Linked DNA regions of Homo sapiens: region 1 is linked to region 2. Evidence: fine-mapped expression QTL. A gene starts in region 2. The other region holds a variant in brackets. All regions are shown on one strand. Distances are between the middles of the regions.

Region 1 (2,913 bases), 210 kb before region 2:
TTTATTTTATTTTTATTTTATCTTATTTTATTTTATTTTATTTTATTTTATTTTATTTTATTTTATTTTATTTTATTTTATTTTAGATGGCGTCTCACCCTGTTACCCAGGCTGTAGTGCAGTGGCATTATCTCGGCTCCCTGCAACCTCCACCTCCACCCCCAGGATTCTAGCGATTCTCCTGCCTCAGGCTACCTAGTAGCTGGGATTACAGGCACCCACCACCATGCCAGGGTGTGTGTGTGTGTGTGTGTGTGTGTGTGTGTGTGTGTGTGTGTGTGTGTGTGTATGTTTTTAGTAGAGGTGGGGTTTTGCCATGTTGGCTAGGCTGGTCTCGAACTCCTGACCTCAGGTGATCAACCTGCCTTGGCTTCCCAAAGTGCTAGGATTATGGGCATGAGCCACCATGCCTGGCCTCATTGTTGTTTTAATTTCCAATTCCCTGATGATATATGATGTGGAACATCTTTTCACATGCTTATTTGTCATCTATACATGTTCTTTAGTGATCTATTCAGATATTTCCCCATTTTTGTAACCAAGTAGTTTCTTGTTGAGTTTTGAGGTTTTTGTATATTTGTGATACATGTTCTGTAATGTGTATGTGTTTTGCAAGTATTTTCTTCCAAACTGTGTCTCTTCTTCTCATTCTCTTAAGTCTTTCTTTCACATATTGTGCTTTTGGTATTGTAGCTAAAAAGTCACTACAAAAGCCAAGGTCACCTAGGTTTTTCTATGTTTTGTTTTAGAGTTGTAAAGCTTTACATTTCACATTTAGGTTTATGATCCAAGTAGAGTTAATTTTTTGCCAAAGGTATAAAGTCTGTGTCTAAATTTTGTTTGTCTGTTTGGTTTGGATTTCCAGTCATTCCAGCAACATTTGTCGAAAAGATTATCCTTTCTCATTGGATTGCCTTTCTTCTTTTATTAAAGATTCGTTGACTATATTTGTGTGGGTCTATTTCTGGGCTCTCTGTTATGCTTCATTGATCTAATTCTCTATTCTTTTGCCCAAAACATACTGTCTTGCTTACGGTAGATTTTTAAATTTTTAACAGCTTTATTGAGGAATGGTTGATATAGAGAAAACTGCACACATTTAAAGTAAACAATTTGATGAACTTGGAAATAAGTGTACATCTATGAACCCATCACCACAATTAAGGTAATAAACCTATTCATCACTTTTTTTTTTTTTCTGAGATGGAGTCTCTCTTTGTCACCTAGGCTGGAGTGCAGTGGCATGATCTCCACTCACTGCAACCTCTGCCTCCCAGGTTCAAGTGATTCTCGTGCCTCAGCCTCTGGAATAGCTGGGATTATAGGCGCACGCCACCATGCCTGGCTAATTTTTGTATTTTTAGTAGAGATAGGGTTGGCCAGGCTGGTCTTGAACTCTTGGCCTCAAGTGATCCGCCTGCCTCGACCTCCCAAAGTGCTGGGATTACAGGCGTGAGCCACTGAACCCGGCCCTATTAATCATTT[T/C]TAAGGAGTTATTCCTGCCCCTTTATTGTTACTGTTGTTGTTGTTGTTTATTGCGGTAAGAAGACTTACCATGAAATCTACCCCTCTTAACAAATTTTTAAGTGCACAATACAGTATTGTTAACTATAGGCACAATGTTATACATCAGATCTCTAGAAGCTACTCTCTTGTATTATTAAAACTTTATACCCATTGAACAGCAACTCCCCATTTTTCCCTGGAAAAACCATTCTATTTTCTGCTCTTATGAGTTGGACTATTTTAGGTACCTTACATTTGTGGGATATTGTCCTTCTGTTTATTTCACTTAGCATGTCCTCTAGGTTCATCCTTGTTGTCAAATATGGCAAGATATCCCTCTTTTTAAGGCAGTTTCAGCTTTCAGCTCTTGCATTTAAGTTTTTAATTCATTTTGAGTTGATTTGAAGGGAGCTGAAATGTGGCATAGACTGACCAGATTTCAGAAAGGAACCCAATCAATAATACAATTACCAGCCAGATGCAGTGTGTCTGCTCATAATGATGTTTTACTTCAAAGAGTTACAGAGAGCCACATAATGGTTCACAGTCATCACTCCCAGTAATGCAAATTTTGTGTACCCCCAAAAAAGTTCATATAGAGTTGGACAGCACATGTCATTAAAGGTATTGTTTGAATCATGGAAAGTAACAACCCCTGAGCATCAAGGGAACAGCAGTATATGTGATAAGGATTTCCATGACAGAGAGGTCACCATAGAATAAATATAGGAGGAACAGCAGGCATTTCTCAACACATACTATGATGATTACATAATTTCTTATTACAATCACTGACAAAGGAAGAAGGTAACAAATGGCATACTTACTGGGAGCCAGGGAAGCCTAAGAGACAAAATTCAGTAACACCACTGTGACTCCCACATATTTAGTCCTGAGGATTTGCTCCTTGTGAAATGGAAAGAGCCAAAAAAAAAAAAAAATGAGACTGCTTCTGATCACAAAAGGACTAAAGACATTTCCAGATTGAGAAAATATTCCCCTCCGGCTTCTAGGCTCCACACCATGACTCTATACAAGGTTGATGTTAAATGTTTTATGAAGAATAGATAGGTAGGTAGAATGGTAGATAAATGTATATGTCCAAGAAGATAAGCACTGGTCACCAACACTGCACCACAGGCATGAAAACCCATCCACCCCAGCACGCACTGTTGTCTCTCAATTCACTGGACATCTCAGCTCCAACTCTGCTCTGACCAGATACCCTAAGTACTTCCTTGATCACAACCTGCTCATTTATGTCTTCCATCCTGAATGGAACTAAACTGTCTTCTCTACCTATTATGTCCGTGTCATACAAAAACCTACTGCATCTCAACAGTTATACAAAAGTATTTTTAGCAAATCCTACTTAGATGTGGTTACTTCTTTCCTTTGTTTCCTCTG
Region 2 (2,913 bases):
TTGACTTATTTGCTGTCAGTGCTCCAAGGGATGAGCTCTGGAGGTCATCAGTAACTTGGTCAAACATCCACAGCTACTTCTTCATCCTTCTGATCCAATCAAGAGATTCCTATGCTGAAGTTTTACCTTTCAGGAAAGGCTGAACTAAATATGTAAATAATGAAAGTAGACCCTGTTCTTGGGGGTAAAATGCTGCATAAGTACATTCTTTATTGTTATATCATAGATTTTAGATTAGAAGTGGCAGCCTAGGGCAGTCATTGATTATCTTCTTAGGGATAGGGGTTAAATCACATTATCATTGCAGTGCTGACGTGTAGGACACGGAGGTTCATAAACATCCCGTGGAGTAGCACCCAGCACATAGCTCTACTGGGTCCTTTTGCGAACAGGCAAACCATGGAGCCTTGCTGAACCCTGGATGAACTGTGTACCTCCTTCTCTTGCCACCTCCTTCTTTCTATTTTAATAGCTATTCCTATTTTTATACACATCTCCTCTTAAAGAGTTACTTAGCTGCTAGATTTACCTCAAGGATTGAGGCATGTAAAATTTATTTTTAAATATAAAATGGGGGTTCACAGAAAACCCCTAATCCATTTCCAAAGCCATCAGCTTTAGAGCTGACTTTCCTCTTTCTCCCCTGAGCAACTTCCTTTTCCTGATCTTCTGAGGGAATATCCCTCGTCCCACAAATGCTCCAGCACCTCCTAATTTAATACCCTCAAGTTGTATATATACCAGGAAATAAACTCATAATCTCCATCCTAATCAGTTTGTAATATAAAAGGAAGAACAAAATTCCCAAACTTTAACCCTATGGCCTTTTCAGTGTTTATTGATGAGTATATTGCAAACACCTGGGTAGCCAGAGCACCTCTGCTTCACTCCTCTGCTTAGAAGCAGCTTCTGCCACACATCCAGGATTATGTAATACATATCTGTCACGGTCCACAGGACCAGCGGACTTTAAAAAATAATGGTGACATAAAAACTCACAGTGGTAGCTATACCACGGAACCCTAGGTGAGAAGGCACCTCCACCCGCACACAGGTGTATGGACGCAAGGATGAACGTTCCGGCCGCACGCGTCCCACACACGGACGTGCACACGGGCGCCTCCGAATAGGCTCGCGGTTCCCGAAGCCGGCTCCGCGGACGCCTGCTCTGGCTCCGTGGGAAAGGCGCCTCCGCGGCGGGGCCCCGGGCAGCGCCAGACCCGGCGGGCGGCGGCGGCGTTGGCGCGGCCAGGCGAGGGGGGTTCCCGCAGCCCGCCCGCCCCGCCCCTCGCGCCCGCGGCTCCGCCTCGCCTAGCCATGGTGGAGCAGGGAGACGCGGCGCCGCTGCTGCGCTGGGCCGAGGGCCCCGCCGTCTCCCTGCCGCAGGCCCCGCAGCCGCAGGCGGGAGGCTGGGGCCGGGGCGGCGGCGGGGGCGCCCGGCCGGCCGCGGAGCCGCCCCGGAGGCGGGAGCCCGAGGAGCCGGCCGCCCCGGAGGTGCTGCTGCAGCCCGGGCGCCTGGAGCTGGGCGACGTGGAGGAGGACCAGGTGGTGGCCGTGTTCGTGGTCACCTTCGACCCCCGCTCGGGTGAGGGCCGCGCCGGGGCCAGGCGCGTGGGGAGGGTCGGGGTGCCCCCGAGCTTTGGGGGCGCGGGGGAGGGGCTCGCTGCGCGCGCACCTGCCCTCCCGGCCCCGCACCCCGCACCAGGGCCGGCCCCGGGCTCCCGGGCTTGGGGAAGGGCGGGGGTCGGCCAGTCCTCAGCTCTCTCCCTCGGGGCGCAGCTGGGTGCTGGCGCGCGGCCTCTCGGAGCGGCCCCGAGGGCTTTGTTCCAGCCCCGCCGACCTCCTCTCCCCTCCCCTCCTCTCCTCTGAGTCCCAGCCCCACAGTGGTGTTCGCACTTCAGTGACAGGGCATCCGGTTTGTGGCCACGTTGGGTTTTGTTTTCTTTTCTTGGGGGCTAGAAGATTTTTCACGTTGTGCGGAGGAAACCCCCCGGGCGAGCGCCCTGAGCTCCCCGCTCGCCCCCCATCCCGTCCCCCGCTCCCCGCTCGCCCCCCACCCCGTCCCCCGCTCCCCGCTCGCCCCCCACCCCGTCCCCCGCTCCCCGCTCGCCCTAGCTCCCCGTCGCTTCCTCTGGGGTAACTTTCCTAGCGGCCAAGTTCACTTTCTCTGACTGCATTATTTTGAGGAATTAACGCCGGGAGCATTAAGGGATGGGGCTGAGGGATTCAGCTGAAGGCTGATTAAAGGAGAAGCCTCCCCGGATAGGCTGTCTTTCGGAGATGCTTGGAGAATTAAAGTCTTATCCCACATAATCTTAGCCTAACCACCCGGCAGGGGGGTGTGCGTTTTCCAGGTGAGAGTCCACGGGGGACAGAAGGTGGAAGAACGACCCTGCGCGCCCAGGAAGCCTTGGAGGGTCAGCTAGGGACTTCTGACTCTGAGAGTGGCTCTGCTGTTCGGGGTTGGGGGAAGGAGGTGTCATCGCAGGAGTCGTGGTGTCAGGGCTTAAGGAAACCCAGGTGTGACTGTCAATGTCTCCAGGGCAGCTGCTGGAGTGTGGAGTGCCTGTTCGTGCGGGAAAATATTGGCTGCTTTCTGGGATGAGGTGGGATGGAGTGGAGAAAAAAAGGGGTTAGGATCTGGAGAAGGGGAATCTGGTATGGCAGCTGATGATGGGTTCCAGGCCGGTAATTTTGGGGTTCTCAGCTGTAGGACACAGGAAGAATGTGGGATTCACTGTGGAGCTCCATTTGCAGGGACAGAGTTTGTGGGGACAATTCAGGCCTTTGTGACTTCTGCTTGTTTCTTTGCCACATTCCATGGCTTTCAAACTCTTTTGACTGATCTATCATGTGAAGTTAATTTTACATCACAACCAATATGCTCACATACACGTACAGTACTTATGTAAC

What was found. PIP is the estimated chance that this variant, and not a neighbour inherited with it, causes the effect.
Region 1: its variant is fine-mapped to the expression of DENND11 in whole blood (INTERVAL, PIP 0.97).

What each region holds. Positions count from the first base shown.
Region 1 is chr7:141,910,942-141,913,854 of GRCh38, reverse strand. It overlaps the pseudogene OR9N1P. Among named protein-coding and RNA genes, the nearest start is that of OR9A4, 4.0 kb to the left of the region's middle. The variant T/C (reference allele first, on the strand shown) is at 1,486.
Region 2 is chr7:141,700,558-141,703,470 of GRCh38, reverse strand. It overlaps DENND11 (DENN domain containing 11), which reads left to right and starts at 1,305. Exons shown (of 9, transcript NM_001080392.2): 1 at 1,305-1,585. The coding sequence starts at 1,318.